Homo sapiens: one gene and its partner. The protein of the gene in region 2 purifies or fractionates together with the protein of the main gene of each other region. This does not show direct contact. Each region holds a gene or a part of one and is shown on either strand. Other genes may lie near its edges.

What was found.
Region 1: the proteins of PCDHB10 (region 2) and CLEC4A purify together in Homo sapiens (co-immunoprecipitation; one large-scale study listed by IntAct). This does not show direct contact.

The regions. Positions count from the first base shown.
Region 1 is NC_000012.12:8,129,143-8,133,700, forward strand, and holds part of CLEC4A (C-type lectin domain family 4 member A), read left to right. Parts: intron 1-121; coding exon 122-220; intron 221-4,558. UniProt on the Homo sapiens protein: C-type lectin receptor that binds carbohydrates mannose and fucose but also weakly interacts with N-acetylglucosamine (GlcNAc) in a Ca(2+)-dependent manner. Involved in regulating immune reactivity.
Region 2 is NC_000005.10:141,190,387-141,196,339, forward strand, and holds PCDHB10 (protocadherin beta-10 precursor), read left to right. Parts: upstream 1-1,966; 5' UTR 1,967-2,166; coding exon 2,167-4,569; 3' UTR 4,570-5,261; downstream 5,262-5,953. UniProt on the Homo sapiens protein: Potential calcium-dependent cell-adhesion protein. May be involved in the establishment and maintenance of specific neuronal connections in the brain.

The DNA of each region.
Region 1 (4,558 bases), on a different chromosome or scaffold from region 2:
CTCTACTCCAGTAATAGGGCATTTGTAAGTTTTATTTCAATAAAGAATGCAAGAAAGTAACGATAAAGAGCAAAGTCATAATGCTACCAGGAAAATAAATGGTCTTTATTCTCTTTTCCAGTTTTCTTTCAAAAATATTCTCAGCTTCTTGAAAAAAAGACTACAAAAGAGCTGGTTCATACAACATTGGAGTGTGTGAAAAAAAATATGCCCGTGGAAGGTAAAAATTAATGTGCCTAGAATTCAGTTGCTGAATGTACTATGTAAGGATCCCAAATCAATATTTCCAGTAAGATTCCCAGGTAGATCATACTGAAAAGTTGAGTCTCACAATAATTTAAGCTACAAATGTACAAATATCTAGGACATGCTGGGCATGGTGGCTCACACCTGTAATCCCAGCACTTTGGGAGGCTGAGGCGTGTGGATCACAAGGTCAACAGATCGAGACCATCCTAGCCAAAATGGTGAAACCCCGTCTCCACTAAAAGCACAAAAATTAGCTAGGCATGGTGGTACACACCTGTAATCCCAGCTACTCGGGAGGCTGAGGCAGGAGAGTCGCTTGAACCCGGGAGGCAGAGGTTGCAGTGAGCCGAGGTTGTGCCACTGCACTCCACCTGGCGACGGAGCAAGATTCCGCCTCAAAAAAACCCAAAAGACAAAAAAACAAATATATAGGACATAAAATTCTTTTGTTGTTGTTTTTTTGAGACAGGGTCTCACTTTGTTGCCCAGGCTAGAGTGCAGTAGTGCGAACATGGCTCACTACAGCCTCGACCTCCCGGGCTCAAGTGATCCTCCCATTTCTGCCTCCTGAGTAGCTGAGACTACAAGCACACGCCACTACACTCAGCTAATTTTTGTATTTTTTGTAGAGATGGAGTTTCACCATGTTGCCCAGGCTGATCTTGAACTCCTAAGCTTAAGTGATGTGGCTGTCTCAGCTTCTTGAAGGGCTGGGATTATAGGCGTGAGCCACGGTGCCTGGTCCTAAAATTCGTATATGTACTCATATATCTTTAATTTGTCTATGGAAAAAAATAGAAGCTTAATTGTGAAAAAGGTTACATTGCTTTTAGACTTCTTCGACCTTTGCTTCTTTCGGAACTTTCTATACACATTTGCTCTTTTTTTCACATATCAGTTAAAACCATGTGATGAAAATGTGATGATGATTTTTTTATGGATGTGAATTATTTAAATTATTTAAATTAATAGATTATTGTTATTATTATTATTATTTTTGAGATAGGATCTCACTCTGTTTTCCAGGCTGGAATTCAGTAGTGTGACCACAGCTCACAGTAGCCTTGATCTCCTGGGTTCCAAGTAATCCTCCACCTCAGCCTCCCAGTAGCTGGGATCAAAGGTGCCCACTACCACACTTGGCCAATTTTATTTTTATTTTTTGAATTTTTGTAGAGAGAAGGTCTTGCCATGTTGCCAGGCTGTTCTTGAATTCCTGGCTTCAAGCAATCCTCCCACCTCAGCCTCCCCGTGCTGGGATTACAGGAGTGAGCTACCATGCCCGGCCAATAGGTTATTTTTAAGAACAGTTTTATATTTACAGAAAAATTGAGCAGATAATGCAAAGAGATCTCATTTTTCCCTTGCTCTGCACACATGCTCTCCCCTATTGTTAACATCTTACATGAATATAGTATACTTCTTACAACTAATCAACTAATATTGGTATATTATTAATTAAAATTCACAATTTTCAGGTTTCCTTAGTGTTCACCTCATTTTCTTTTCTGTAATAGGATCCCCATCCAGAACACCACGTTACATTGAATTCTCATGTCTCTTTAGGCACGTCTTGGCTGTGGTAGTTTCTCAGATTTTCCTCATATTTGATGACCCTGACAGTTTTGAGCAATACTGGTCAGGTATATTATAGAATGTCCATCTATCAGAATTTGTCTGATGTTTTTCTAATAATTAGACTGGGATTATTGGTTTTTGGGAGGAAGATCACAGATGTAAAATGCTATTTTCATTACATCATATCAAGGGCATATATTATCAAAATGATTCTTGACTATTGATGTTGACCTTGATCACTTGGTTAAGGTAGTGTTTGTCAAGTTTCTCCACTGTGAAGTTACTCTTTCCCTCCCCACCCCTTTCCATACTACACTCTTTGGAAGGTTCAGTCCACACTTAAGGACTGGGGAGTTATGCTCTCCATTCATGAGGGTGGATTATGGTATCAGTCATGGTCAGCAGGCTGGAGACTCAGGAAGGAGTAAGAGTTGCAGTTTGAGTCCAAAGACCATCTGCTGCAGAACCTTGAAGAGCCAGTGCTGCAGATGAAGTGCAAAGGCAGTCCACTGAGTTTCCTCTTGCTCAGAGGAGGTCCCTCTTTTTGTTCCATTCAGATCTTCAATTGATTAGATGAAATCTACTTACATTATTGAGGGCAATCTGCTTTACTCAAAGTCCAGCAATTTAAATGTAAATCTCATCCAAAAGCATTTTCACAGAAACATCCAGAATGTTTGGCCAAATATCTGGGCACTGTGGCCTAGATAAGTTGACACATAAAATTAACCATCACAAGTATCTATATAATTTATTTGAAATTTTGTCCAGGTGATATTTGTCTCTTTTATTCCATTTATTTATTTATATAATCATTTAGTTATATCTGCATGTACTCATGGAGATATATATATCTATATATATATATATCTCTTCAACTTTTAAGTTCTGGGGTACATGTGCAGGATGTGCAGGTTTGTTTCATGGGTAAATGTGTGCTATGGTGGTTTGCTACATAGACCAACCCATCACCCAGGTATTAAGCCCAGCATCCATTAGCTGTTCTTCCTGATGCTCTCCCTCCCCGGCTTGCTCCCTCCACCACAGGCCCCAGTGTGTGTTGTTCCCCACTGTGTGTCCAACTCATGGATATTTATTTTAAATTTTGGTTTATAATCCAATACTGCTCTATTTTGTAGTTCCAGCTTTGGACATTGGGAACTTTTTCATTTGACTCCTGTGACCCTTTAACATATCACCACGTGTTTTTTCTTTTGTTTTGGTTTAGCACTTCCTCACTTTCTGGGACTGCAAAATGCTTGAGACTCACATTGTACATTTCATGTCCCTATCCTGGAATCAGATATTTCTTTGAGGAGCCCTAGTTCCTTTGATTGGAGAATAGTGTCCTATGAAATTTGATAATTTGTATTGTCATTTTCATTCAGTTCAATGTATTTTTAAAAATTTCCCTTTAGACATCTCCTTTGACTCGTGGATTATTTAAAAGTGTGTTGTTTAGTTTCAAGCGTATGGAGATTTTCCTGTGTTATTTCTTTTATTAATTTCTGGTTTCTTTTCACTGTGGTTGGAGAAAACGATATGATTTCAGCAATTTTAAATTAGTCGATGTTATTTAATGTCCCGAGATATGGTTTGTTTCAGCATATGTTCCAGAGGCACTGGAAAAGAATGGGTATTCTGTTGTTGGGTGGAGCGTTCTATAAATGTGGATTGGATCCTTGTAATTGATGATGTTTATAAGTTCTATGTTCTTGCTGATTTTCTGTGTAGTTCTGTCAATGGTTGAGAGAGAGGTGTTGATGTATCCACCTATAATTGTATATTTGTCAATTCCTCTTTCAATTGTATCAGTTTTGCTTTATACATTTTGCAGCTTTGTTTGGTGTATACACATTTGGGGTCACTTTACAAGGCTCTGTTTATTTTTTTTTCTGTCTAGTTTTTTTGTTTCTTTGTGGGTTTTTTTGTTTGTTTTTGTTTTTTTTTTGTTTTTGTTTTTCAGACGAAGTCTCGCTCTGTTGCCCAGGCTGGAGTGCAGTGGTGCGATCTCAGCTCACTGCAACCTCTGCCTCCTGGGTTCAAGCGATTCTCTTGCCTCAGCCTCCTGAGTAGCTGGGATTACAGGTGTGCGCCACCATGCCCTGCTAATTTTTGTATTTTTAGTAGATATGGGGTTTCACCATGTTGGTCAGGCTGGTCTCAAACTTCTCATCTCAGGTGATCCATCCACCTCGGCCTCCCAAAGTGCAGGGATTACAGGTGTGAGCCACCACGCCCAGCCTTTTTTTGGTATTTTTAGTAGAGACAGGGTTTCGCCATGTTGGCCAGGCTGGTCTAGAACTCCCGACCACAGGTGATCCGCCCGCCTCAGCCTCCTAAAGTGCTGGGTTTACAGGCGTGAGCCACTGTGCCCAGCCTTTTCTGTCTAGTTTGTTTCTGTTGCTCAGTTGACATTTTCTGTTGTTTTGTCTTCCAATTCACTAATCTCTCTATCCCCTTCATTCTGCTGAGTCCATCCACTGAGCTTTTTATTTTGGTTATTATATTATTCAATTATAAAATTTCCATTTTTTTTTTTTTTGTCTATCTACTGTGTTGAGGCTTCTTTATTTAAGAAAAAAGTGATACATGATGTGGGATTAAAATCAAGAACATCATTGAACTTCACCTTCCCTCCAACCAGTTGCCCCAAACTCCCCTGCCCCCACCCTTTGTGTTCCCAATTCCTTCCTTAGTGAATGAAGAACTTAATCCCAAAAGCCCTGGC
Region 2 (5,953 bases):
AGGATGGTCTATCTCTTGACCTCGTGATCCACCCCACTCAGCCTCCCAAATTGCTGGGATTTACAGGCATGAGCCACCGCACCCAGCCTACAATAATTTTCTTAAACTTTACCTTTTATTTTAAAGTTCTAGTTTCCCGGCATTGATAGTTCCCTATTTGAAATATAATGTTTCTCTTGTAAGTGATATGATAAATAAACCCCTAATTAGCCTTAGAAGAAAAACCACTGCAAGATATTAAGCGTGTGTAAATGGGCTTTAGTCTGGAAACCAAAAAAAAAAAAAAAATTTAGTCATTCTATAGGATCATGTGAAAATATTTAATTTGCTCCTTTTAATTCTGTATAAACAAATCAGAGGTTCCTGAGGTTCCTGTTAAATTTTTAATGGCTAATAGCCCAGTGCCATCCAGTTGAAAAAACAACAGCAATCACAAAGTAGAGGTTTATATTGTGCGGCTTTTATATTCAGCTATTAGAGTGTTATTGGTAGTGTCTAGCCTTTTCCTCCACGACATTCCTTGACTTAATCCATTTGGGCCTATTATAGACAAAATAGAGCTTCTTTCTAGATATAAGGTCTTTGAGGCAGGGCTCAGTGGCTCATTCCTGTAATCCCAGCACTTTGGGAGGCCAAGGCGGGCAGATCACCTTAGGTCACGAGTTTGAGACCAGCCTGACCAACGTTAAGTAACCCCGTCTTTACTAAAAATACAAAATTAGCCAGGCATGGTGGCACATGCTTGTAATCCCAGCTACTCGGGAGGCTGAGGCAGGAGAATCGCTTGAACCCAGGAGGTGGAAGTTGCTTTGAGCCGAGATTGCACCATTGTACTCCAGCCTGGGCAATAAGAGCAAAACTCCATCAAAATAAAATAAAATAAAATATAAAATAACTTAAAAAGAACTTTGAATAAAATTCTATGAAAAAAGACACTAGAATGCTGTTCTTAATTTTAATAGTGTTAAGATAGGTGTTAGTGTGGTCTGTTCTTTACCTCCCTTTATTTGGTGCAGAGAAGTTAGATCCTGCTAAATTTCAATTAAGAGGGGACCTTAAAATAAGGATCAATCTCTTATTTAACCCTGTAAGTTACTTTAAAGCTAATACAAGAAAAACAAAGACAAGTGAAAGTAAGGAAACAGAAATTGCAAAGAGTAAATGAAAGAAAAAAACTTTCAAGTGGTCGGAATTGAAAGGCACTGGAAAACGTTTCAGGTTCTACCCATCTGAGTTTATTTATGCATGTCCTAATACAGGCAGTATTTATTGCTTGTCTGATTTGTCACTCACAGATGATTAGGACATAGTTCCTATCCTTAAGTAGCCCACACATTGAAGAAGAAATAGATTTGCATGAATTAAGAAGCAATAATATTTGCAGGGCAATCATAGTTGTATACACAAGTTTTTATGAGAGAATAGAGGAGGGACAGCTTAAATGCATTATACAAGATTACAGAGTGATGATTCTCCTTAATCAGTGTGATGAGATTTTGAAGTTTGTTGAGGAAGGTGTGAAACATATTTTCTTTGTCTGTTTTGGTGTTCTTATCCCGATGTTTCTGGAAAAGTAAAATCTCCTGTTACTTTGGTGATCCCAGATGTCAGCAACATTTTCCCTTTGATTCTTGACATTGTGTGAGAGTTGTGTCTGAGATGAAAGGACTAGTAGAGAGCTAAATTTAGCACAGTGAGGTGGACAGAGTTATTGCTAGAAACATATTTTCAAGTGTTGAATTTTTAACTTTTCCCAAAAAGAATTGAAGAATCTCAACAATGTGACTATTTCTCTGTCTCAACATTAATTTTTACAAGACAAACGAAAATAAACATGAAAAATTTAAATGAGGCACTAAAGGAAATTGTCTGAATACACACACCCAAATGGGTACAACTACTGAAATCTGGTGGAGGCCACACGGTGGCGCTGCAGGCTAAAGAGACGGTTTGGGAATTGCTCTGAGGATGCTATGCAAGTCACTAATAAAGGAAGACACGGACAGATGAACTTAAAAGAGAAGCTTTAGCTGCCAAAGATTGGGAAAGGGAAAGGACAAAAAAGACCCCTGGGCTACACGGCGTAGGTGCAGGGTTTCCTACTGCTGTTCTTTTATGCTGGGAGCTGTGGCTGTAACCAACTAGGAAATAACGTATGCAGCAGCTATGGCTGTCAGAGAGTTGTGCTTCCCAAGACAAAGGCAAGTCCTGTTTCTTTTTCTTTTTTGGGGAGTGTCCTTGGCAGGTTCTGGGTTTGGACGTTATTCGGTGACTGAGGAAACAGAGAAAGGATCCTTTGTGGTCAATCTGGCAAAGGATCTGGGACTAGCAGAGGGGGAGCTGGCTGCAAGGGGAACCAGGGTGGTTTCCGATGATAACAAACAATACCTGCTCCTGGATTCACATACCGGGAATTTGCTCACAAATGAGAAACTGGACCGAGAGAAGCTGTGTGGCCCTAAAGAGCCCTGTATGCTGTATTTCCAAATTTTAATGGATGATCCCTTTCAGATTTACCGGGCTGAGCTGAGAGTCAGGGATATAAATGATCACGCGCCAGTATTTCAGGACAAAGAAACAGTCTTAAAAATATCAGAAAATACAGCTGAAGGGACAGCATTTAGACTAGAAAGAGCACAGGATCCAGATGGAGGACTTAACGGTATCCAAAACTACACGATCAGCCCCAACTCTTTTTTCCATATTAACATTAGTGGCGGTGATGAAGGCATGATATATCCAGAGCTAGTGTTGGACAAAGCACTGGATCGGGAGGAGCAGGGAGAGCTCAGCTTAACCCTCACAGCGCTGGATGGTGGGTCTCCATCCAGGTCTGGGACCTCTACTGTACGCATCGTTGTCTTGGACGTCAATGACAATGCCCCACAGTTTGCCCAGGCTCTGTATGAGACCCAGGCTCCAGAAAACAGCCCCATTGGGTTCCTTATTGTTAAGGTATGGGCAGAAGATGTAGACTCTGGAGTCAACGCGGAAGTATCCTATTCATTTTTTGATGCCTCAGAAAATATTCGAACAACCTTTCAAATCAATCCTTTTTCTGGGGAAATCTTTCTCAGAGAATTGCTTGATTATGAGTTAGTAAATTCTTACAAAATAAATATACAGGCAATGGACGGTGGAGGCCTTTCTGCAAGATGTAGGGTTTTAGTGGAAGTATTGGACACCAATGACAATCCCCCTGAACTGATCGTATCATCATTTTCCAACTCTGTTGCTGAGAATTCTCCTGAGACGCCGCTGGCTGTTTTTAAGATTAATGACAGAGACTCTGGAGAAAATGGAAAGATGGTTTGCTACATTCAAGAGAATCTGCCATTCCTACTAAAACCTTCTGTGGAGAATTTTTACATCCTAATTACAGAAGGCGCGCTGGACAGAGAGATCAGAGCCGAGTACAACATCACTATCACCGTCACTGACTTGGGGACACCCAGGCTGAAAACCGAGCACAACATAACGGTCCTGGTCTCCGACGTCAATGACAACGCCCCCGCCTTCACCCAAACCTCCTACACCCTGTTCGTCCGCGAGAACAACAGCCCCGCCCTGCACATCGGCAGCGTCAGCGCCACAGACAGAGACTCGGGCACCAACGCCCAGGTCACCTACTCGCTGCTGCCGCCCCAAGACCCGCACCTGCCCCTCGCCTCCCTGGTCTCCATCAACGCGGACAACGGCCACCTGTTCGCCCTCAGGTCGCTGGACTACGAGGCCCTGCAGGCTTTCGAGTTCCGCGTGGGCGCCACAGACCGCGGCTCCCCCGCGCTGAGCAGAGAGGCGCTGGTGCGCGTGCTGGTGCTGGACGCCAACGACAACTCGCCCTTCGTGCTGTACCCGCTGCAGAACGGCTCCGCGCCCTGCACCGAGCTGGTGCCCCGGGCGGCCGAGCCGGGCTACCTGGTGACCAAGGTGGTGGCGGTGGACGGCGACTCGGGCCAGAACGCCTGGCTGTCGTACCAGCTGCTCAAGGCCACGGAGCCCGGGCTGTTCGGTGTGTGGGCGCACAATGGGGAGGTGCGCACCGCCAGGCTGCTGAGCGAGCGCGACGCAGCCAAGCACAGGCTCGTGGTGCTTGTCAAGGACAATGGCGAGCCTCCTCGCTCGGCCACCGCCACGCTGCACTTGCTCCTGGTGGACGGCTTCTCCCAGCCCTACCTGCCTCTCCCGGAGGCGGCCCCGGCCCAGGCCCAGGCCGAGGCCGACTTGCTCACCGTCTACCTGGTGGTGGCGTTGGCCTCGGTGTCTTCGCTCTTCCTCCTCTCGGTGCTCCTGTTCGTGGCGGTGCGGCTGTGCAGGAGGAGCAGGGCGGCCTCGGTGGGTCGCTGCTCGGTGCCCGAGGGTCCTTTTCCAGGGCATCTGGTGGACGTGAGGGGCGCTGAGACCCTGTCCCAGAGCTACCAGTATGAGGTGTGTCTGACGGGAGGCCCCGGGACCAGTGAGTTCAAGTTCTTGAAACCAGTTATTTCGGATATTCAGGCACAGGGCCCTGGGAGGAAGGGTGAAGAAAATTCCACCTTCCGAAATAGCTTTGGATTTAATATTCAGTAAAGTCTGTTTTTAGTTTCATATACTTTTGGTGTGTTACATAGCCATGTTTCTATTAGTTTACTTTTAAATCTCAAATTTAAGTTATTATGCAACTTCAAGCATTATTTTCAAGTAGTATACCCCTGTGGTTTTACAATGTTTCATCATTTTTTTGCATTAATAACAACTGGGTTTAATTTAATGAGTATTTTTTTCTAAATGATAGTGTTAAGGTTTTAATTCTTTCCAACTGCCCAAGGAATTAATTACTATTATATCTCATTACAGAAATCTGAGGTTTTGATTCATTTCAGAGCTTGCATCTCATGATTCTAATCACTTCTGTCTATAGTGTACTTGCTCTATTTAAGAAGGCATATCTACATTTCCAAACTCATTCTAACATTCTATATATTCGTGTTTGAAAACCATGTCATTTATTTCTACATCATGTATTTAAAAAGAAATATTTCTCTACTACTATGCTCATGACAAAATGAAACAAAGCATATTGTGAGCAATACTGAACATCAATAATACCCTTAGTTTATATACTTATTATTTTATCTTTAAGCATGCTACTTTTACTTGGCCAATATTTTCTTATGTTAACTTTTGCTGATGTATAAAACAGACTATGCCTTATAATTGAAATAAAATTATAATCTGCCTGAAAATGAATAAAAATAAAACATTTTGAAATGTGTGGTTGAGATTGCTGGAGATATTCATTTATATGTTGCAAATTTATTTTAAATACCAAATTTTTAATAAGCAAGAGGAACTAAAGGTTAGAATGAAAAACAAGTTTCATCAGTTTTTTTATATTACTATATATAAAATATATACTATATATAACTAACATTTTATAGTTTTTTAAGTTAGCTGTTCTGCCAGTCCCTTACCACAGTGTGGTTTCTTCTTGAATTGATCTCAATATTTATAAATAATATGTTTATAATACTATATCTTGATATTGTTTTGTATTTGAACCATTTCTTTCTATAATAGAAAAGCATTTTAGCTTTATTTCCAAACTAACAAACATATGCAAACATTGCAAATTCTTTTTCTCCTATTCTCCAATATAGATGTCACAGTTTCTTAGTTAAATTAGTGGTTATTATCTATATTGTTACATGCTTCAGAATATGCATTTGTATACTGTACTAGAATTACATTTCCATACTTGAAAAGTATGGTTCCTAGAGTTCGTAATTGTTATTTCATACTTGCATTATTTTCTATGTACCTCTATTGTTTTTTTCCATATCTTTCATTTGAATGTATTTTCTCCTTAAAAATATTCCAATTTTTAAGATACTCTGTCAATGACATTTATTTTCAGGAGCTCTTTCATCGTGAGTTTCCTGTTTCATTTAGACTGGTTAATCTATAGACTGTT